2 separate regions of the Homo sapiens genome follow, and region 1 is linked to region 2. Evidence: fine-mapped QTL for protein levels in blood plasma. Region 2 holds a variant in brackets. A gene starts in the other region. All regions are shown on their reverse strands. Region 1 holds the start of CXCL11 (C-X-C motif chemokine ligand 11). Region 2 overlaps NT5DC4 (5'-nucleotidase domain containing 4).

The links. A credible set is the group of variants that fine-mapping cannot tell apart. PIP is the posterior inclusion probability: the model's chance that the variant is causal. The UK Biobank Pharma Proteomics Project read protein levels with antibody pairs (Olink). The fine-mapping took linkage between variants from a reference panel, not from the people measured, so its PIPs are less certain.
Region 1: CXCL11 starts here. The variant in region 2 is the best candidate, but not a certain one, in a credible set for the plasma level of the CXCL11 protein (UK Biobank, PIP 0.69).

What each region holds. Positions count from the first base shown.
Region 1 is chr4:76,028,821-76,040,307 of GRCh38, reverse strand. It overlaps CXCL11 (C-X-C motif chemokine ligand 11), which reads left to right and starts at 4,238. Exons shown (of 4, transcript NM_005409.5): 1 at 4,238-4,381; 2 at 4,966-5,092; 3 at 5,189-5,261; 4 at 5,492-6,626. The coding sequence starts at 4,321. The coding sequence ends at 5,515. It also overlaps a transcript of ART3 not described here and the pseudogene RPL36P8.
Region 2 is chr2:112,733,196-112,744,895 of GRCh38, reverse strand. NT5DC4 (5'-nucleotidase domain containing 4) reads right to left here. Exons shown (of 17, transcript NM_001393655.1): 17 at 5,801-5,983. The coding sequence ends at 5,960. It overlaps CKAP2L (cytoskeleton associated protein 2 like), which reads left to right. Exons shown (of 9, transcript NM_152515.5): 7 at 2,127-2,190; 8 at 3,889-4,078; 9 at 5,848-8,547. The coding sequence ends at 6,073. Among named protein-coding and RNA genes, the nearest start is that of NT5DC4, 18 kb to the right of the region's middle. The variant C/T (reference allele first, on the strand shown) is at 6,020.

The DNA.
Region 1 (11,487 bases), not on the chromosome of region 2:
GGTCACCCAGGCTGGAGTGCAGTGACGCGATCTTGGCTCGCTGCAACTTCCGCCTTCTGGGTTCAAGCGATTCTCCTGCCTCAACCTTGCAAGTAGCTGGAATTACAGGCATGCGCCACCATACCCAGCTGATTTTTGTATTTTTAGTAGAGACAGAGTTTCACCATGTTGGCCAGGCTGGTCTCGAACTCCTGACCTCAAGTGATCCGCCTGCCTCGGTCTCCCAAACTGCTGGGATTACAGGCATGAGCCACCATGCCCAGCTCTAATGTTTTTTTAAAATATCAGATATTACCTTTGCAGTAAGGAAGAAAATAAAACAATAGAAAATAAAATACAGTAGTCCCCTTGTTATCCTTGGGGGATACATTCCAAGACTCCCAGCAGAGTACTGAAGGAGAAAATTGTGATCCACAGTTTTTCTACACAGCTAAGTAGTAATTCACACATGAAGGCAAAAGGAAGAGTTTAGTCTTGTTTTATGTAAATTTGAATTATGTCTATTTTCTATTTAAAATAGTATAATGTAAAAATATGTTTAATAATTTCCAGGGTCTTTTTAAAAAAATTAAGAATCCCTATTTAAGAAATTGTCTTACACCAAAGCTATATGACAACACTTTAGCTAGTAAGCAGAAATATTCACTATTGTTTGTCTATATTATTTGAACTATGCTATTGCATTCATGCACTTTCTGTAAGTGATTTTTATGATTAGTATGCTATTTTTATATTCATGGTTATTATAATTTAAAATATTTTTATATGCTATAACAATGTCAACTCATCTTTTATTAAGTGGTTGTGTTTGTGTTAATGCTGAAAAACAGCTGAAAACAAGCTAGATGTGGTATGCCAATTCAGGAAAGGACACTGATAATAATAATAGCAGTTAATACATTTTGAGTGCTACATATTTTTCTAAATGATTAATATGCATTACCTCTTTTAATACCTAGTTTATAACAGCCCTATGAAAAAGGGGTCTGAGACCAGCCTGGCCAACATGGTAAAACCCCATCTCTACTAAAAATACAAAAATTGGCTGGGCGTGGTAACACATGCCTGTAATCCCAGCTACTTGGGAGGCTGAGGCAAGAAAATCGCTTGAACCCAGGAGGCGGAGGTTGCAGTAAGCCGAGATCATGCCACTGCACTCCAGCCTGGGTGGCACAGAGAGACTCCATCTCAAAAAAAAAAAAAAGTACTATTATTATCCCCAGTCTATAGATGAGAAAATAGCCTCAAAAAGTTGAGGTAACTTGTTCATAAATAACTGAATGTGGGCTGGGCACAGTGGCTCACGCCTGTAATCCCAGCACTTTGGGAGGCCAAGGCGGCAGGATCACCTGAGGTTAGGAGTTCAAGACCAGCTTGGCCAACATGGCTAAACACCATCTCTACTAAAACTATAAAAATTAGCCAGGCATGGAGGCACGCACCTGTAATCCCAGCTACTTGGGAGGCTGAGGCAGGCGAATCACTTGAATCCAGGAGGCAGAGGCTGTGGTGAGTCGAGATCACACCACTGCACTCCAGCCTGGGCTACAGAGCAAGAATCCATCTCAAAGATAAATAAATAAATAAATAAATAAATAAATAAATAAATAATCAAGGGTGGATTTGAACACAGGCTGACTCTAGAGCCTTCCCTATTAACAACTATGCTCTACTGTGTTTCTAATGCTGAGAAAATGAAAAGCAACATTAAAAAATAATAACAGATAAGGATTTATGAGCTCCAAGAACACATTCCTTTTACTTTACCCATATTCCTGAGGGAAAATTAGTCTTTCTTTACATATGTTAAATGAATTAATGGAAAAGAAGGAAAGAATATTCCAGCTACTTGGAAATTAATTAAAATACAGTAGCCCCCTCACCTTATCCTTGGGGGATATGTTCCAAGACCCCCAATGAGTGCCTGAAACTGCAGATAGTACTGAGCCCTGTATATATTGTATTTTTTCCTGTACATATATACCTATAAAAAAGTTTGATTTATAAATTAGCCACAGTAAGAGCATCAACATTAATATATAGAATAATTACAACAATATTCTGTAATAAAAGTTAAGTGACTGTGTAGTCTCTCTCTCTTCAAATATCTTATTGTACTATACTCACTCTTCTAGTGATGCTGTGAAATGATAAAATGTCTATGTGATGGGATGAAGTGATGGAGCAAGATGATGTGAGATTTCATCATGCTACTCAGAAAAGTGCACAATTTAAAACTTATGAATTATTTCTAGAATTTCTCATTTAATGGGGGACTACTGTAAAGACTTTCAAAGGTTTTAAAGACTAGTCATGGTTGTTAAAGAATTTAAATGCAGGATTATATCTAAATAAATATATAATTTCAAGATAAAATGCAAATGATAATTCTCAAAAAAAGAAGTTGAATAAGATAAAATAATAATCTAAAAGTAATAAACTGGCTATAAATTCCCCGATTATACCAACTTTTATTGGTAAAACTAGGAAATAGGAGAAAATTCTTGAAAGAAAGTTACAGTGATTTTCTCATGTTACAAAGACAGGAGCTAAAAAAATATTATTGATGGTTGATGTAAATAATTAGAAAAATTCAGGTAAAAATCTTTTTAAAGAATTTTAAGAATTAATATCAAAATGTAAAACAATGTATTCCTTTCAAATTACTTAAGGAAGGCCAAGCACCGTGGCTCATCCCAGTAATCCTAGCACTTTGGGAGACCAAGGCAGGAGGATTGCTTGAGGCCTGGAGTTCATGGCTGCAGTGAGCTATGATTGTGCCACTCGACTCCAGAATGGTGACAGAGTGAGACCCATCTCATTAAAAAAAACAAAAATGGCTTCAAAAAGTTAAATAAAATATATTTAAAGTTAGAAAGAAATCAAAGAAAACATAAAGAATCAGCAAGGAAGCATTTTAAAAATTACAGATTACCAGTTATACAGTAAATATATTTTATTAAGCTTACCCATTAGAAAGCTCCTTTGATATGATTTTCTTAAACATCTACAAGTGACACACTTAAAACAAAGATTTAGGAAGCTTAAGAGGAAAAGATAAAGACAAAAAAATAGGAATTACATCAAAGTAGAATCTCAGAGGTAAAACTATCACATGAGCAAAGAGGATCACTTTTTTTTATGATCCCTAATACAACTCATACAACTTCATGTACTAAGTAACAGTGCTAAAATATATATAAAGTAGCTTTCCACCATGGCCACCATTGGAGGGCAGCAGCCATGACACTGCACTACCCTATAGCTGTGGGCCTCAACAAGGGCCACAAGGTGACCAAGAATGTGAGCAAGCCCAGGCACAGCCACTGTGGGCGCCTGACCAAACTCACTAAATTTGTGTGGGACATGATCCCAGAGGTGTGTGGCTTCACCCCTAACGAGTGGCGTGGCATGGAGTTACTGAAGGTCTCCAAGGTCAAACAGGCCCTCAAATTCATCAAGAAAAGGGTAGGGACAAACATCTGCACCAAGAGAAGGCAGGAGGAGCTGAGCAACGTCCTGGCTGCCATGAGGAAAGCAGCTGCCAAGAAGGACTGAGCCCCCTGCCATCTGCCTATAATGAAAGCTTTGCAGAATAAAATAAATATAAAATAAAGTAATAAAATTAAATTAAATTTAAAAATAAAATAAAGCAAAACAAAATAAAATATATAAAGTAAAAATTGTTGAAAATGCAAAACAATATGGACATAAATACAGAAACACAGGGAAACTTCTTTAGGCACTCATTTACAGGTAAAAATATGAAATTGAATAAAGGTCATCTGGTGTCAAATAATATAGGCCTTATCTATTATAAGAGTTTGGACTGAAAAGCAAAAGTGAGATAATAAAAAAAAGCTTTTCAGAATATTATTTTGTATAGATATGTGAAGGATGAAGGGTGGGTGAAAGGACCAAAAACAGAAACACAGTCTTCCTGAATGAATGACAATCAGAATTCCGCTGCCCAAAGTAGTCCGACAATTAAATGGATTTCTAGGAAAAGCTACCTTAAGAAGGCTGGTTACCATCTGGGTTTTCACAGTGCTTTCACATTCTTATCACTTTCAACACTACTGCAAATAGGAAGGGACAGTAACATTTAGAAGAGAACAAAACAGAAACTCTTGGAAGCAGGAAAGGTGCATGACTCAAAGAGGGAAATTCCTGTGCCATAAAAGGATTGCTGGTGTATAAAATGCTCTATATATGCCAATTATCAATTTCCTTTCATGTTCAGCATTTCTACTCCTTCCAAGAAGAGCAGCAAAGCTGAAGTAGCAGCAGCAGCACCAGCAGCAACAGCAAAAAACAAACATGAGTGTGAAGGGCATGGCTATAGCCTTGGCTGTGATATTGTGTGCTACAGTTGTTCAAGGTATGCAGTAATTTTTATTTCTCAACCTATAAGTTCCTTTTCTAATGTTTCAAATGTCTTTTCTTCCACTTTTATCCTAAAAGACATGATAAAGTTTTATTTAATCTCACAGATTAGAAGTTACTACAGCTTTAGCACAGAAATGGTGGACATGTTTAAGATACTAGAGATGATTATTGAAACTAGAAATTATGAACTTCATGGAATTTTTGATTTGGCTAGAATATCTGGCAAAAGCCTTTAGCAACAGTTTTAAATGTCTGTTAAGAAGATTTTATATAGCGATCATGTTAACAAGCTTCCTGGGAAAATATTTGAGGATAAAATCAAGGGGGCAAAACAAGCTTCACCTCCAATAAACTTCCTTCATGCTTCCCATTTGTTAGCGATTTGCTTACTAATTTAATGAGAAAATAATCAACATCTTACTTAACTTTTCCCAGTAACAGTTGTGTTAAGTGCTATTTGACAAATTACTATCTTTACCCTTAATGAAAATTCTGCTCACGTTCACCACCAGCTATAAACCACAGCCATCTGTTGCAATCAGATGCATTACTAACTAATGCTATGATCTATTCTAGGCTTCCCCATGTTCAAAAGAGGACGCTGTCTTTGCATAGGCCCTGGGGTAAAAGCAGTGAAAGTGGCAGATATTGAGAAAGCCTCCATAATGTACCCAAGTAACAACTGTGACAAAATAGAAGTGATGTAAGTAATGAACTTGCTGAAGATGACAATGGTGCAGGCTTTTTTGTTTATGTATTTGCATCTAAACTTTAAGACTCTTGTATGTTCTTTTAACAGTATTACCCTGAAAGAAAATAAAGGACAACGATGCCTAAATCCCAAATCGAAGCAAGCAAGGCTTATAATCAAAGTAAGTTACCAAATTACTCCCATGTTATAATCTGTTTTATCCAAGACAGATCTTTTGAAAAAGAAAATAATGTGGACAACTACAGAAAGATTCTGCTATGATCCTGTGTGAAATATTCTGTTAAGGGGTCCTTGGTTGTAACAGCTTCCCCTTCTTACTACATGTTTTTAGATGTCCTGGGGGAAACAAGAACAGCCCAAGTAAATAAAACTCTTGTTTTCTTATTCCAGAAAGTTGAAAGAAAGAATTTTTAAAAATATCAAAACATATGAAGTCCTGGAAAAGAGCATCTGAAAAACCTAGAACAAGTTTAACTGTGACTACTGAAATGACAAGAATTCTACAGTAGGAAACTGAGACTTTTCTATGGTTTTGTGACTTTCAACTTTTGTACAGTTATGTGAAGGATGAAAGGTGGGTGAAAGGACCAAAAACAGAAATACAGTCTTCCTGAATGAATGACAATCAGAATTCCACTGCCCAAAGGAGTCCAACAATTAAATGGATTTCTAGGAAAAGCTACCTTAAGAAAGGCTGGTTACCATCGGAGTTTACAAAGTGCTTTCACGTTCTTACTTGTTGCATTATACATTCATGCATTTCTAGGCTAGAGAACCTTCTAGATTTGATGCTTACAACTATTCTGTTGTGACTATGAGAACATTTCTGTCTCTAGAAGTCATCTGTCTGTATTGATCTTTATGCTATATTACTATCTGTGGTTACGGTGGAGACATTGACATTATTACTGGAGTCAAGCCCTTATAAGTCAAAAGCATCTATGTGTCGTAAAACATTCCTCAAACATTTTTTCATGCAAATACACACTTCTTTCCCCAAACATCATGTAGCACATCAATATGTAGGGAGACATTCTTATGCATCATTTGGTTTGTTTTATAACCAATTCATTAAATGTAATTCATAAAATGTACTATGAAAAAAATTATACGCTATGGGATACTGGCAAAAGTGCACATATTTCATAACCAAATTAGTAGCACCAGTCTTAATTTGATGTTTTTCAACTTTTATTCATTGAGATGTTTTGAAGCAATTAGGATATGTGTGTTTACTGTACTTTTTGTTTTGATCCGTTTGTATAAATGATAGCAATATCTTGGACACATCTGAAATACAAAATGTTTTTGTCTACCAAAGAAAAATGTTGAAAAATAAGCAAATGTATACCTAGCAATCACTTTTACTTTTTGTAATTCTGTCTCTTAGAAAAATACATAATCTAATCAATTTCTTTGTTCATGCCTATATACTGTAAAATTTAGGTATACTCAAGACTAGTTTAAAGAATCAAAGTCATTTTTTTCTCTAATAAACTACCACAACCTTTCTTTTTTAAAAAAAGATCTATATACTTTCCAGGACATTTGAGATGCCTTTAACAATTTTGCCTTATATTTCAGAAACATACACCTATCCGTCATCATGAAAAACTGTTTAGAAATATATTTTAATGGGTAGGTGGGAAAGACAGTTGTTTCTTTTGTCGGCCTTGGGGGGTCTTGATAGTCCAAACCCCCTTCTTACTTGGAGAAAATCCCTTATGTGAGTGTTGGTGGGAGGCCAAAAGAGAGAAGCCAAAGACAGGAGATCCTCTCCTGTAGCCACAACAAGGACTCAGCCATGCTGTTTCTACCCTAGACTTTGAACTCCAGCTGGCATCACAAAGATACTATTAGTAAGAAAATTATTTCAAGCCTGGCAGCAGCAGGAGAAACAATGAAAGTCTTACAGTAGTGTCTTCCCAATGTGTGTTCCTGTAGCATGACTCTGGCTAGTCCTTCCTATCACCTAGTTCCCTTAGGTCTTTGTCCATTTTCCAAGACTTATTCTCCATTGTCCTGTGGATTCTTCAACCTCCAACTAAATTCTTTTTCTCCTTAAGATAGCCAGAGTTGGTTTCTCTGCATGTAACCAAAAGCCTTGACTGATAGCAGTACTCTCTATATAGGCACCCATACATTTGAAAAATAAAAATATTTATTATAGGATTATAATCAGATATATCTATATTGCATTATTATATAGGTTATAGATACAATATAGATTTATAATAAATTGTTATATAAATCTATATAAATATCTATATAGAGATGGGACTTCCATATAAATTCCCTGGATAGTTTTAAGACCTGAATCTGGCTGGGTGCGATGGCTCACATCTGTAATCCCAGCACTTTGGGAGGCCGAAGCGGGCGGATCACCTGAGGTCAGGAGTTCAAGACCAGCATGGCTAACATGGTGAAACCCCATTTCTACTTAAAATGCAAAAAATTAGCCGAGGCTGCTGGCACGTGCCTGTAATCCCAGCTACTCAGGAAGCTGAGGCAGGAGAATCGCTTGAACCCGGGAGGCAGAGGTTGCAGTGAGCTGAGATCATGCCATTGCATTCCAGCTTGGGCAACAAGAGTGAAACTGCACCTCAAAAAAAAAAAAAAAAAAAAGACTTGAATCTAATCTTTGACTACTTACAGTGATTTTTTTTTTAAGTCTCTTTAAAAATAAAAATTCACATAGTCAGCTGGGCATGGTGGCTCACACCTATAATCTGAGCACTTTGGGAGACCAACATAGGTGAATGGCTTAAGCCCAGGAGTTCAAGACTAGCTTGGGCAACATAGCGAAAATTCATCTCTATAAAAAATAGGAAAATTAGCTGGGTATGGTGGCACATGCCTGTAACCTCAGCTACTTGGGAAGCTGAGGTGGATGGATCACTTGGGTCTGGGAGGTTGAGGCTGCAGTCAGCTGTGATCACACCACTGCACTCCAGCCTGGGCAAAAGCCTGCCTCAAAAAAAAAAAAAATTCACAGAGTTAAGGCTGCATGATAAATTGGTATTTGTAAGAAGTATATTAAATATTATAGGCCAGTACATTATTACTGAGAAGAAAACATACACCTAAAGTTCTTCATAGCAAAATAAATATATGAAATATTAATAATTAACATATTTGAGCCAAGATCCTCCCCACCTTGGTACCTTTGCACATACTATTCTCTCTGCCCATTTCTTCACTAAGCTAATGCCTACTAATTGCTTAGGTCTCAGCTTAAATGACTTTTTCTCCAAGAAGCCTTTGAAACCACCACTTCAGCTTTAACTAGATTAGGTGTCCTATTTATTTATTTCCATAACACTCTCTATTTTTCCATCATACTACTTACTGCAATTGTAATTAATGAATTATTCCTGTGCCTAATATCTGCTCTCTCATAAGTGTAAAAGAAAGCTGCTGTAGCCCAGGCCAACAGTACAGTTTCTGGTGCATATCAGACCCTATTGAATGGCAATATAAACTAAGGGAAAAGGAATTTACAGCAGAGGAATGACACAAGGGAATGTACAGTAGTAGGAAGTATAAAGTGATTTTTAGGAATCATAATTAGATTCGTTTGGTTGGAAGGATGAAGGACATGAAACTGTAAATAACCTTGAATTTTACTCTGTACAAAATGGGGATTCAATAAATGTTTGTGAAGAAGAGAGTGACCCTATCAAAGTCATTGGAAAATATTCTGGGAATTGCATGAATGGTTGATTGAAAGTGGGAAAGAGTGGAGGAGGAAAATCAGTTGGGATTTGCTGCAATAGCTGCAATATCTCAGGTCTGTATTTCCAAAACTTCAAGGCATTCTCATATCATCTTTACAATTTTTTTTTAACATTTCTCTGTTTGATCTTCATTATATTTTTAGAAACTCTGTATACCACTTTATTTTACGTACATTTACATGAAAAGTAAACTTTCACTACTGTACATGTAAAATCGGTAATACATGCCATGGAAATAAAATGTAATGATAAAACAAAATACAATGAAAAAATACTAATATTCCCCCTGATTTAATTAATCAGAGGGATTGAAGTTAAGAAGAGAATAATTCACTGATACTAAACGTTATTATCAATGTACATGGTAGTGTCCCACACTTTGGGAAACACTGGTGTGAAAAGTAATGGGGCTGGCTCTGCAATAAGTTAAACATAATTATAGTAATTATATATTACTATATAATCCAGCAATTCCATTCCTAGGTATATACCCAAAAGAACTGAAACAGCTCTTTAAACAAAAACTGGTACACAAATGTTCATAGCAGCATTATACACAACAGCCAGAAAGCAGAAACAACCCAAATATCCATCAACAAGTGAATGGATAAAATGTGGTATACACACACAATAGATTATTCGGCCATAAAAAGGAATGAAGTACTGATACATGCTACAACATGGATGAACCTTGAAAATATGCTAAGTAAAAAAAGCCAGACACAAGGGACCACATATTGTATGATTCCATTTTATAGGAAATATCTAGAGTAGGCAAAACCATAAAAACAAAAAGCAAATTAGCTGACTGGGGTTTGGGGGAGGTGTTAATGAGGAGTAACTACTTAATGAGTATGGAGTTTCTGGGTGATGAAAATGTTCTGGAACTAAATTATGGTGATGGCTTCACAGCACTGTGAAAGTACTTAACTCCACTGAATTGTACTCTTTTAAATGGTTAAAATGGTAAATTTTATGTTATTTGTATTTTACTATCATAAAAAGAAGAAGGGCTACACTAAGGTGGTATTGGTAAGAGTAGAAATATAATGACAAGTACACTGTACAAAAATAATCAAGACAGTGATAGATTGGATGTGAAAGTTGAAGCTGAGGCCAGACACGGTGGCTCACGCCTGTAATCCCAGCACTTTGGGAGGCCGAGGCGGGTGGATCACGAGGTCAGCAGTTCAAGACCAGCCTGGCCAACATGGTGAAACCCCGTCTCTACCAAAGATACAAAAAATTAGCTGGGCATGGTGGTGCATGCCTGTAATCCCAGCTACTCAGGAGGCTGAGGCAGGAGAATCGCTTGAACCCGGGAGGTGGAGGTTGCAGTGAGCCGAGATCGCGTCATTGCACTCCAGCCTGGGCTACATAGAGCGAGACTCCATCTCAGAAAAAGAAAGTTGAAGATGCAAAAAAGAAACAAAGAACATGTTAAGGATTTGAGTCTGAATTTAAAGCAGAGAAGAGACAAGGAAAAAAGGCTGAACTTCTGAGGTCTGAAAGAATAGTTCTGTCACTAACAGAAATAGGGATATGAGGGGGAAGATGTAGTTTAGCAGAAAAAACTGCAGATTCGATTTTAAATACATGGAACTTAAGATGCCAAACACTCACAGTGACTTAAAATTTCAGGACTGTTTCCTCTAATTAGCCAAGAAGAGCTTTCAAACAAATGGAGTAGTTTTGGATAATGCTATTAGAAAAGGAAAGATTATACTTAATTATTTTTGGCTACTGAGTACAGGACCTAATATGCCCACATGGAATTAATATACCTCTTTGTATCTATTTCTGAAAAGATTTTCATAGCCAACAATTATAAATCTTTATGATATGGTCAGCACATTCTGTGGATTATAAGTAGTACACACACAAAAAAAACTGTTAGGGTTTTTTTTGGAGAAGGGGTGAATGAGGCAATTTTAGTTGCTTCTTCTTGCCTTGTCTGCAAATTTTATTAACCAGACACTGGTAATGAAATTGAGCAAGTCTGAGATTATCACATAACACTGAAACCATAGTTTCACTTAAGTACCTAAGAAGAATACGTCCTAAAAATCCTGGCACCATAAGTACAGATGTATTCATAGTTCCTTAGTGCTGCTCAATAAACTGCTACTAAATTGGAAATGCCCTAACGTGAATTATAGACTCTATATAATAAATCCTGACTTAGCATTCTTCTTCAAATTGTTCACAAAGACAAACTGTCAATAAGAAGTTGAAGAAAACTGAATGATAATCTAAAATATGGAATAACAGGCACTACTGAACTATATCATATCTCAAGATTCCTCTTCTCAAAAGAAAAGACAACCAATGATGAATCAATTAAAATTAAAACTAGACATTTTCTAAAGATTTTGATTAAAAATGGAACAAAGTATCACAAAATTCTAATTTATTTTGTTGAAATATCTTATTTATGGGAAGGAGAAAGAAATGCACCATACTTCCCCCAAACACATTTACTTTATTATAATGTCCTCCAATTTTGTCTCTTCCTCCAAATGATGAAATCTGCCATATTTGTAAAAGTCCTCTCAAGTGCGCGAGTTCAGAAACACTGCATAGCCTAAAATGTATCCAAACAGAAGCTATTCTGAGCCTCTGCCTCCTCCAATGCCATGATGATTGTTA
Region 2 (11,700 bases):
TTACACAGATGCTGGTGAAACTGGGCTGTTTGCACATATAAAAGGTGGGTCTGAAAAAGCTTATTTAAAGCCCGAGACACATGGATGGGGCTTCAACACAGGGTGATCTGGCTGAGTTGACTAGTTAGAAAACCCTCAATATCAGTATCTTTAGGTCTTTCCTCTTAAGCTGGTCAAGTTATCTGGAGAAATCTGTTCCAATCTCCTTCCTGGGAGCTAGACACCAGGCTGCCAGTGCTGTGGGAGAGAAGAGAGCAGGGAGTCTCAACCCTCAACATAGAAACTTTTGCTTATCTCCTTTTCTCAGAAAGCACCCTATCCTAATCTTGCATGATATCCCTCAGAGACTTGCAGAATACATTCCCAGTTTTCTGTTAGGATGAAGGGAGTCAGACACAGTTACTAGGCTGCATAGAGTTTAGGGGTGCAGGATGGATTTGGAGGTCTGACTGCTTTTTGAACAGATGCTAAAGAGTCCTCCTAATTTGGGCCCTACCACCCATTCCTTAGCCTTTCTGTCAGGTTGTTTCTTAGCCACACTGCCAGCTTGGGATTCAACTCTCTCAAGTAGATCAAATTGTTTACCTCTCTTCCTTCTGCACTGCAGCTTCCAAAACCTTATTGTCATTTCTTCTCTCCTATGTTTTGTGGTTATTGCCTCTTCTTAATCCCTTTATTATCCTTTCAGTCGATTTTCAAGAGAGATTAGAAATAAACGTATATTTAATCCACCATCATTAACCAGAAGGCTATACAAATATAAAATATGCTTGATGAATGTTGTATAGAATTCACTCTTTGTAATATATTCTATACATTTATTCCCATTCATTTAGCTGAAATCATAATTCTATTTTGGATTTTGAAAAAATGTACGGAAAGCTTTGCTTTTATGCTTTATTGTCAGTTTATATCTATTTGATACAGAGTTCCAGGTAAGGAAGACAAACCTCCAACTATAATTTTCTTGTGGGAAAGTGCAGCTTCTGCTTCATGGCATGGTTTACATACTTGAAAAATAAAGCCTATCTCAGATAATTTTATCAGAAAATTACTTTTCCATGAAGGTTTTTTTTTCTAAGTATGTTAACAAATAAAAGAAGAAAGACAGGAAAAGCTGGAGAAAATTACTCAAAATGCCTACAAAGATTGTATCTGGGCCAGGCACAGTGGCTTACCCCTGTAATCTCAGCACTTTGGGAGGCTGAGGCAGGCGGATCACTTGAGATCAGGAGTTTGAGACCAGCCTGGCCAACGTAGCGAAACCCCGTCTCTACTAAAAATAGAAAAATTAGCCAGATGGGGTGGCGCATGCCTGTAATCCCAGCTCTTCGGGAGGCTGAGGCAGGAGAATCACTTGAACCCTGGAAGTGGAGTTTGTGGTGAGCCGATACCGCACCATTGCACTCCAGCTTGGGTGACAGAGACTCCATCTCAAAAAACATTGTGTTTGGGGCCAGGTACAGTGGCTCACTCGTGTAATCCCAGCAGTTTGGGAGGCCGAGGCGGGTGGATCACGATGTCAGGAGATCGAGACCATCCTGGCTAACACGGTAAAACCCCATCTCTACTAAAAATACAAAAAATTAGCTGGGCGTGGTGGTGGGCGCCTGTAGTCCCAGCTACTTGGGAGGCTGAGGCAGGAGAATGGCATGAACCCAGGAGGCAGAGCTTGCAATGAGCCGAGATCGCGCCACTGCACTCCAGCCTGGGACAGAGTAAGACTCTGTCTCAAGAAAATATATCTATATCTATATATAAAATGCATTTTCTGTGTGGCTAGCTTTACATCATTGGGCCAGAATTTTTATGTAGGAATACATATTTGACAGTATTATACAAATCAATAGGAAAATAGAATTTGATGTAGACAAATTACATTATGGACAACTTTAAATACATCTGTTCATTAAGTCGAGTGTGCCAACACTTAATCAGAATTTTCTCTGTTCCTTTACTTTTCTCATGAAGCTATAAAACTGTCAAGCTAGACAAAAGATTTATAGTTAGACGAGATTTTAAAAGGAAACTTTTATTATAAAACATGTATTTGAAGTTAAAGTTCCTTAGCAAATTTTTTGCATGAATGTTTTTAAGATTTTGTATGTTTTCTTCCTTCCTTCCAGCCAATACAAGAGTTGCGGAAAGTTGTTCTTAATATCTTGCAAGACTCAAACAGAACCACAGAAGGTACTATTATTTTTGAATTTAAATTCATCTTCTCTAGCTGTACCAGTAAAAATCATCCAGGACATATAGGAAAAAGAAGAAAAGAATCATCCCCTGAAATGCTTCTCACTTCTTGGTTTCCATGACCTGGCCCTTTCAGCCATTGTCATCAGCTGACTTATTTGTATTATTACAAGTAAATGCACTACTCAATACTGAACAAAGGTTGTTTCCACCAAAACAGCCTAGACTGGAGTGTCCCACTTCCTTGGAATCCTAGATGGCAGAAGACAAACAGCTCTTTGCTGGAAGAGACTGAGGCAGAAAGGAGAAATGCCTTAAGTTACATGTTTAATCATAATAAACCCACCAACATACTCATCTAAATTTGTGTTACGCTTTAAAAATAGCTATCTCAGGAATCTCTTCAATTGGATGACCATCACTGTCAGTGGTCATAACCTTTAGAAGACTCTTCTATGAGACATATATTGTGCCAAACACGAGTGACATTATAATTGCTTACGATACTTGTTATATGAATGGAAAGAAAAAACAAGCTATCTTTAGAAAATAAATTGGATTCTTCTTGTTATCTTAAAAGGTGACAAATCTTTTTCCTTTAATAGTAGATTTAGGCTGCATACGGTAGCTCACGCCTGTAATCCCGGCACTTTGGGAGGCCAAGGCAGGTGGATCACCTGAGGTCAGGAGTTTGAGACCAGCCTGACCAACGTGGTGAAACCCTGTCTTGTCTTTAAAAAAAAAAAAAAAAAAAAAAAAAAACAGAAAAGAAAAATTAGCCAGTTGTGGTGGTGCGTGCTTGTAATCCCAGATACTCAGGAGGCTGAGGCAGGAGAATCGTTTGAACCCAGAAAGTGGAATTTGGAGTGAATGAAGATCACGCCACTGCACTCCAGCCTGGACAACAAGAGCGAAACTCCATCTCAAAAAAAAAGAGTAGATTTAACTGGGGAACAATCAAGTCATGTAGCTAAGTAACCCACTACATGTGGTAAGAAGGACATAAAATAGATAATAGTAGATTCTTTGAGAATGAGGCTACAATTCAGTTATTTGGTTAAAACATGGTAGTGTTTTAAAAGGAATAAAAAGAGAAGACAGGAATCCATGCCTTTGTTGCACCCTATTGACCTCACTTAGGGTGTCAGCCTCTAGCCACAGTGTGCCTGGCACAGTCTGATTTCCTTCCTTTCATTTTGGTGATTGTGTTTGGGCTACCATGAAAACTATTAATGCAAGACAGTTTTTGCCCACTGTCCAAGGCAGTAACCATGTGGTCATCCTGGGGAGGAATGGGATTGGGAGGTTGTGTGAGTTAACCTTAGTGAGTCAAGAAAATTGATCCAAGGTGTGGTGTAAGGGTAGAAGGCCAGTGATTAGTCCCTAAGAGAGCTCTCTTGAGAGTGAATAGGAGACTGGAGATATGTTCAGAGTCTTGAAAGGGTGTCAAGAATCTACGTACAGCAGTCTCGGGGGCTGGCTACGAGGGTAGCCTGATGTAGCAAGACACTGCTACAGAGCTTAACGTGAAAAAACAAGTTATAAGTCACACTTCAAATCAATCACTATTCAGTATGTGGAGCCCATGAAGATCACTGGGAAATCATTGTATGTATGTATTTTTCATGTTATTGACTTCTAGTTGAAGTATTAAATTGGTAAATCTTACTTTCCTTCATGATCTTACATACACAGGGATTACTTCTGACTCTTTAGTTGCTGAAACTAGTATAACATCAGTGGAAGAGCTGGCCAAGAAGATGGAATCTGTGAAGTCTTGTCTTTCTCCAAAAGAGAGGGAACAAGTCACGGCGACACCCCGAATAGCCAAGGCAGAACAGCATAATTATCCTGGTATCAAATTACAGATTGGTCCAATCCCTAGGTAAGCAAACTCTAAAGCAGACTTTGTGTTCACAGACTTAATTCTAGTCCAAGTCTCGATTTTTCCTTCACAGATCTAGAGTAACTGAGACCTGACCTGCAGTGAGGAAGGTGCTGCCAGAGTCAGGAGGGGTATTAGAATGCATTCACCCCCGTCCTATGGTCTCGCCTACCTTTTCACTCTCATTTGTCCTGCACTTGCAGATCCTATCTGCCTTTCCTGCAAGTCCTGACACAGCTGGGTATGGTTGGGGTGATAAGATGGGGCACAAAGTCCCAAGCGGGAGCAAACTCTGTAGCTGTGGGAGAAAAGGGACAGTGAATACCCCTCTAAGAACGGAGAGCAGTGGAGTATGTACTAGTCAGAGACTGCTCATAAAGTCAGAAACGTTTTATTTTTTAACAAATATAAATTTAAGGCAGAATCCATAGTAATTTAAGGAGCTATGTCAGGGCGTCAGTGTCATTTTCTAAAATGTGAGTGTAGCACCACTCTTCTCTGATCATGATCTGGAAAGAATTCCAAACAAGGGCACCAAGACAACAGTTCTTTGTTTTAGTTACCTGGAAAGCACAGCCGAATCTCTTCCAATCCTAAACTCTCTGACACACACCATTTTCCCACTACAGTCAGCTCATAAGAGGATGAAAACAGTTCAGTTCATAAGTGGATGAACTACAGTCAGCTCATAAGTAGATGAAAACAGTTAATCCAAAAACTACCTCTTAATGGCTCTAGAATTCACAAAACCACTAATTACATTAGCCTAAGGAAAACTAGCAGGCAAGTCTGCCAAGATTGCACCATTGCACTCCAGCCTGGGCAACAAGAGTGAAACTCCATCTCAAAAAAAAAATGAAAAGGCTGGGCACATGGTGGCTCATGCCTGTAATCCTGTCACTTTGGTAGGCCGAGGCAGGAGGATTACTTGAGCCTAGGAGTTCAAGAGTGGCCTGGGCAGCATAGGGAGACCCCAACTCTATGAAAAATAAAAAATTAGCCAGGCATGCTGGCATACGTTTGTGCTCCCACCAGCTTGAAAGGCTGAGGTGGACAGATGCCTTGATCCTAGGAGGTTGAGGCTGTAGTGAGCTGTGATTGCACCACTGGACTCTAGCCTGGGCAACAGAGTGAGACCCTGTCTTTAAAAAGAAAAAGCTAGAAAGAATCTTGGAATTCATTAATTCAACCAAATTTGGTATTAGGCCCCATTTCCTTAAAACTTGTCATCTGTTTTGAAAGTTTATAGAATAAATGAACACCAACTGCCAAATATTTGACTTCAAATAAAAACCACACTTCATACTTCATTCAATAAATCCTTATGCTTACACCATCCAAGAACAGATGGACACCACCCAGTACATTCTGGAAATCAGGGAAAAGCCTTTTTTTTGAGACTGGGGTCTTGCCATGTTGCCCAGACTGGAGTACAATGGCATAATCATAGCTCACTGCAGCCTTGACCTTCTGGGCTCAAGCAGTCCTCCCACTTCACCCTCCTGAGTAGCTGGGATTACAGGTGTGTGCCACCATGCCCAGCTAATTTTTATATTTTTTGGTAAAGATAGTGTGTTGCTATGTTGCCCAGGCTGGTCTCGAACTCCTAGAAAAAGCCATCTGAAGATGAAAGCTGCTCTAGACATATCTCTTGTATCACCCTATGTTAAAATGTCTTCCCTGTTTTATTATTGAATAAGAAACAAAAAATAATAAAGATAATTTTTTTAAATGATAAGGTTTTTAATGCATCTCTTGCTGTCTCTCAGAATAAATGGGATGCCGGAAGTGCAAGACATGAAATTTATCACTCCTGTACGGCGTTCGTCGAGGATTGAGCGAGCAGTGTCCCGCTACCCAGAAATGCTGCAGGAACACGATTTAGTAGTGGCTTCTCTTGATGAACTGTTAGAAGTGGAAGAAACAAAATGTTTTATATTC[C/T]GTAGAAATGAGGCGCTGCCTGTAACATTGGGGTTTCAAACCCCTGAATCATAATTTCTTGATGCTTTTTTTAAAAAAGGTGTTTCAGAACCAACATAAGACAAGAAATATTCTTGTCCAAGTGACCTGGAAAAAAAGAGAGGCATCATGGATGCAGATTATGGACGCTCAGGACTTAAGTAATTCACTGGGCTTACTCTCAAATTTTCTCTCCCCATGGGAAAATCTTTGCTTTATGTGTTTAAGACCAGTTTGCCAGTTTTACAGTATACATAAATTTCAAACTTTTGAATATTTACCCTACAACTATGATAAATATTTATACTTTATTGATCTACTTTAATCCCAACATAGTTTTTTATATCAGAAGGTTGGTCCCACAATATAATGGGACTTTTCTTTCTGCATCCACCTTAGCAGAGGGCAAGTTCTTTCATCGTGGAAGATCTGAACTTTGACGCTAGCTTGACAGGCTGAATGGACCTTGACAGATGGCCAAGTCAAAACCCCTCATTTTACAGATGAGTTTATGCTAGCTGTGCCTTTGCTCAGAGATCATAAATTTATGTGTGATCTTTGACTTTCATCACAGTATCCTTGTAAATGAGAGAGAATTCTTGTTTTTTCTATGCCAGGTCTCCTCAGATGAAACACAATCCTGAATTGGCATGGTCGTCTAGCTTTTATATTCAAACCTAGTTTTGCATTTGTTACTCAGAAACACTTCAAGTAACAAAAGGGGGGCAGGGGAGAGGGGTGGGGAGTGGACACTTGCTTCTTCAGTTCTTTGCTCAGCTAGGGTATAGCTGGCCTGAGAAGGCAGTGCAAGCCCCAGAGACTGTTGTAGGTTGCTTTTTCTTCCTCCTGGGCAACTATTTGTGGAAAGGTTTTACCTTAGTCATTATGTAAATATAATTGTGTAGAAAAACCTAGTCAACACATTTTAAATTTTAGCTTTCTTAATATTTAAGTATTATCTTAAAACAACATTAAATTTCTATTAGTTCCTGCTTGTTTATCTTATTTATTATAGAAAACCATGATAATGGCTTTGCATAGAGAATTAGGAGTTTGTCTAAGGATATACCAGTTGGCTGTCCTAAGAAACAAGGAGCATTCATTACCAAGGAGAATGGACTTTGATCAAAGGTCTATCAGCCTCATCCAGGAACTAGATTTTTTTAAGGGAAGCAGATCTATTTCTGAAAGTCAGATTTATAATAAAGCTCAAAAAACTGAGCTATAAACCTGTAATACCAGCAGACTTTCAATAAGAGACTCTTACAACTCAATTGTGGAAAAACTAATAATTAAAAATGGGCAAAGGACCTGAGCAGACATTTCTCCAAAGAAGACATAAGAAATGGCCAGTAGGTATAGATATGAAAAGGTGTTCAGCATCATTAATCATAAGAATAATGTAAATTAAAACCACTGTGAGCTATCACCTCACATCTATAAGAATGGCTATTAACAAGACATGAGATAAATGTTGATGAGATTGTGGAGAAAAGAGAACCCTAGTACACTGTTTGTGGGCGTGTAGACTGGGGCAGCCGTTATGGAAAACGGTATGGAGGCTCCTAAAGAAATTAAAAATAGAACTGTTATCTGACCCTCTTCTGAGTAAGTATGTACCCAAAGAAGATGAAATCACCAGCTGGGCGCAGTGACTCACACCTGTAATCCCAGCACTTTGGAGTGGGTGAATCACCTGAGGTCAGGAGTTCAAGACCAGCTTGACCAACATGGTGAAACCCCGTCTCTACTAAAAATACAAAAAGTAGGCGGGCATGGTGACGGGCACCTGTAATCCCAGCTACTTGGGAGGCTGAGGCAGAAGAATCACTTGAACTCGGGAGGTGGAGGTTGCAGTGAGCCAAAATTGCGTCACTGCACTCCAGCCTGGGTTACAGAGCAAGACTCCATCTCAAAAAAAAAAAAGATGAAATCATCACCTCATAAAGATATCTGCACTCACATGTTTGTGGCAGTGTTATTCTCAATAGCCAAGATGTGGAAACAACCTAAATGCCCATCAATGGACAAATAAAGAAAATACGGCATATGCATGCCGTGGAATAGTATTCATCCTTGGAAAAGAGGGAGTTCTTGCCATTTGCCACAACATAGATGGACCTGGAGAACATTATGCTAAGTGAAATAAGCCAGACCCAAGGAAAAATACTGCATGATCTCACATATGGAATATTTAATTTTTTAAGAAAGAGCTCAAGTACACAGAGAAAGTGCTTACCACAGATTGGGGAAGAGGAAATGGGGAGATGCAGGCCAAGGATACAAAATAGCAGATAAAATGAACAAGTCTAGAGATAGGGCTAAAGTTAATACAATTGTATTAGGGATTTTTGTTAAATAAGTAGATTTTAGCTGCTATTATCACAAAAAAACTGAGATGATAATGTTAATCTGCTTCACTATAGCAGCCATTTTATTATCTATATGTATCCCATAACATCATGTTGTAAATCTTAAATATACCTAATAAAATAAAATTGTCACCAAAATGCAAGAATTAGAGTTAACTTTACCTGTGAAGCCAAGTAATGCTCAGAGGGCTGCTTAGAGATCACAAAATCTGAACATAGGACGTAGAGGCATCAAATATTCAAAATCACCAGGCTTAGAGAGTCTGAAGTGAGTCCTGTGTTAGGAATATTCTTGCCTTGAACCTCAGACACTGTCCTAAGCCCGTCGACCAGGTTCTCATGATCGATCCTGCAGTGCCATCCATTGCTTGTGCACTTACTTTTTTTCTGGCTTCTAGAGTGGTCCATCTTTGCTACCTAAATCCCTCCCCTGACCCCAGGCCTAGGAGTCAGTTGTCTCTTTATGGTGGTTTTATGTCTTTCCTCAAAACCATTGTCTTGACATTACAGCTTAGTTCCCAAAAGAGCAGTTTTATTTTCTTTATTGCTAGTTCCTTGCAGGATGTCTCACAGTATTACCCTGGGTACCAACAATAACAGTGTAGGTTGAACTATTGGTGTCTAATAATTATAAGTTTCAAAATGGCACATTGGAGGTTTCGATCAGCCTCGTCAGACTATAGAGTCTTGCAGACACAAAAGGTTGTGGAAATGATTGTGGATGGTACTGCAGCTGCAGAAAACTGCACCCTAATTCTGGGACTCTTTGTAGATACTCAGTAACCCTCTTGTTTAGTAAATAGCTGCTCCTAGACATAGGGAGCAGGAAGGAGGGAGAGTGGGAAGGAAAGAAGGTGGGCCCTTAATGATTTGGGAAGGAGATTCATAGGGAATTGTAGTGGAAATATGGGCCTTTGCAAAAATAAGTCTAATGTTGTTCGGGGATGGCTTTTTAGAGGAGGTGAGTGTAAAGCAAGTTTTAAAGAAAGAAAAAAAGGGGGGGGAGGATTATATATAGCATCTCTGTGCAGAATGACCATGAACCAGAAGACAGAGGAGAGGCATGATGGTTCACATTTGTTAGTGCTCACTATGCCAGGCACTCGGCTGAGTCTTTTACATACTATAAAATACTGTTCCTGAGGCTGGGCATGGTGGCTCATGCCTGTAATCCCAGCACTTTGGGAAGTCGAGGCGGGTGGATCATTTGATGTCGGGAGTTTGAGACCAGCCTGGCCAACATGGCAAAACCCTGTCTCTACTAAAAATACAGGCGTTATCCAGGCGTGGGGGTACGCACCTGTAATCCCAGCTACTCAGGAGGCTGAGGCAGGAGAACTGCTTGAACCTGGGAGGCAGAGGTTGCAGTGAGCCAAGATCATGCCACTGCATCCCAGCCTGGGTGACAGAGCAAGACTCAGTCTCAAAAAAAAAAAAAAAAAAAAAAATGTTCTTGCCTCCCTGGCATGTACTCCCTTTTCCAATAAAAGCACCCCAGACTGGGTGCGGTGGCTCACGCCTATAATCCCAGCACTTTGGGAGGCCGAGGTGAGCAGATCACTTGAGGCCAAGAGTTCAAGACCAGCCTGGCCAACGTAGTGAAACCCTGTCTCTACTAAAAATACAAAAATTAGCCAGATGTGGTAGAGTGTGCCTGTAGTCCCAGCTACTTGGGAGGCTGAGGCAGGAGGATCACTTGAACCCGGGAAACAAAGGGTGCAGTGAACTGAGATCACACCACTGCATTCCAGCCTAGGCGACGGAGCAAGACTCTGTCTCACAAAAAAAGCACCCCAATTTCCCTACTACCACCCATTTCCTGCTGACAATCTACATGGTTAAGAAGAATGGACTCAACCCCAGTATGCGCATGTGACCCAGTCCTGGCAAAGCCAAACTTGGCATCTCCCTGGCCAGTGGCATTGATTGGAGGATGGGATAGTGTCACAACCAGTGAGGCATCATTTCCCAGACTTTCATTAGAAAGATGCTTCCTGGTAGAGTTGCTGAAAAGATAAAGATAGAAATCTGGAGTTTGGGAACAGCCATCTTATAACCTCATGGACAAAACCTGCCAGAGAATAGTACCAACATGGAATAAACTTGAGAGTTGGAGAGAGCAAGCTATGTCCAATGACATTGATTTGACTCCCTGGTTAATGCTATGCCTGGAGCTGGGCTAACCCTGGACTTTTTAGTTATATGAACCAATAAATTCTGTTTTTTCTCAAACCAGTTTCATTAGGTTTCCTTCAGTTGCTAAAGAAAAAATCCTGACTAATGTACACACACACACACACACACACACACACACACATATATATAATAGCATAGAAAACACTTATTTAGTGCTTACTCTGGCCAAGCTCCATGTCCGTTATCTCACTATATCCTTATAATAGCTTTATGACATGGTTATGGAAATAGAGTAGTTAATAAATGTCAGTCCTGCAATTTCAAAGTCAGGGCTGTCTGGCTCCAGGTTCAGAACTTTTAACTCCTATCTCTATTTAAAGTAAGGAAATGAGGACTAAGGTGATGATAAGGAAACACATCTGAGCAAGATAAATTATTGAACTGTTCCCAGTTTACCAAGCAGGAATCACTGTGACAGCCAAAGTACTGTCATTTATTCTACAAATAAATGATCACATTTTTACCACTAGTTCACTACCACAGAGATGCTGCTTCTGTTCTCTTCATTTCCTGACTGCTCAAGACGATGCCAGAATGAGGATGTCAGTTCAGCTGCTGTCACTAGTCCCAAATGGAAATGCATCTCTCTCACATCAGCCATCCAAGTGACAGCCCAATGCTAATCTACTGCCAAGCCCAGCCTATGTCTGTCTTGTGACTCCACCATCCCTTGGAGGCAGCCTCGTCCATGTGGCCAAAGAAGGCTCCCACCCAACTTCACTCTCCAGCCAGCTGGAAGGGGGAAGAGAGGAACGGGAAGGTATGCCCCTCCTGAGGTCACGGATTGGAAGTTGGACCATTACTTCTGTCCAGAATTTAGGGGCCAGAACTTGGTCCCATGTCCCCCCCTCCCACCCCATCTAAAGAAGCAGGGAAATGTGTATCAGATGGCCACATGCCCAGCTAAAAATTCTTCCAGAAATGGGAGATGAATGTCAGTGTCTGCACACAGTCTTGGAAGCAATGGTGTGCTTCTGTCCCTAAGGTATAGATAAAACAGGAGTGTAGAGGTGACATTAAGTTTAAAAAAAAAAAAAAACTACCCAAATAGAAGTATCTGTCCTACCTCCTACCCATGAGGTAGGACAGATACAG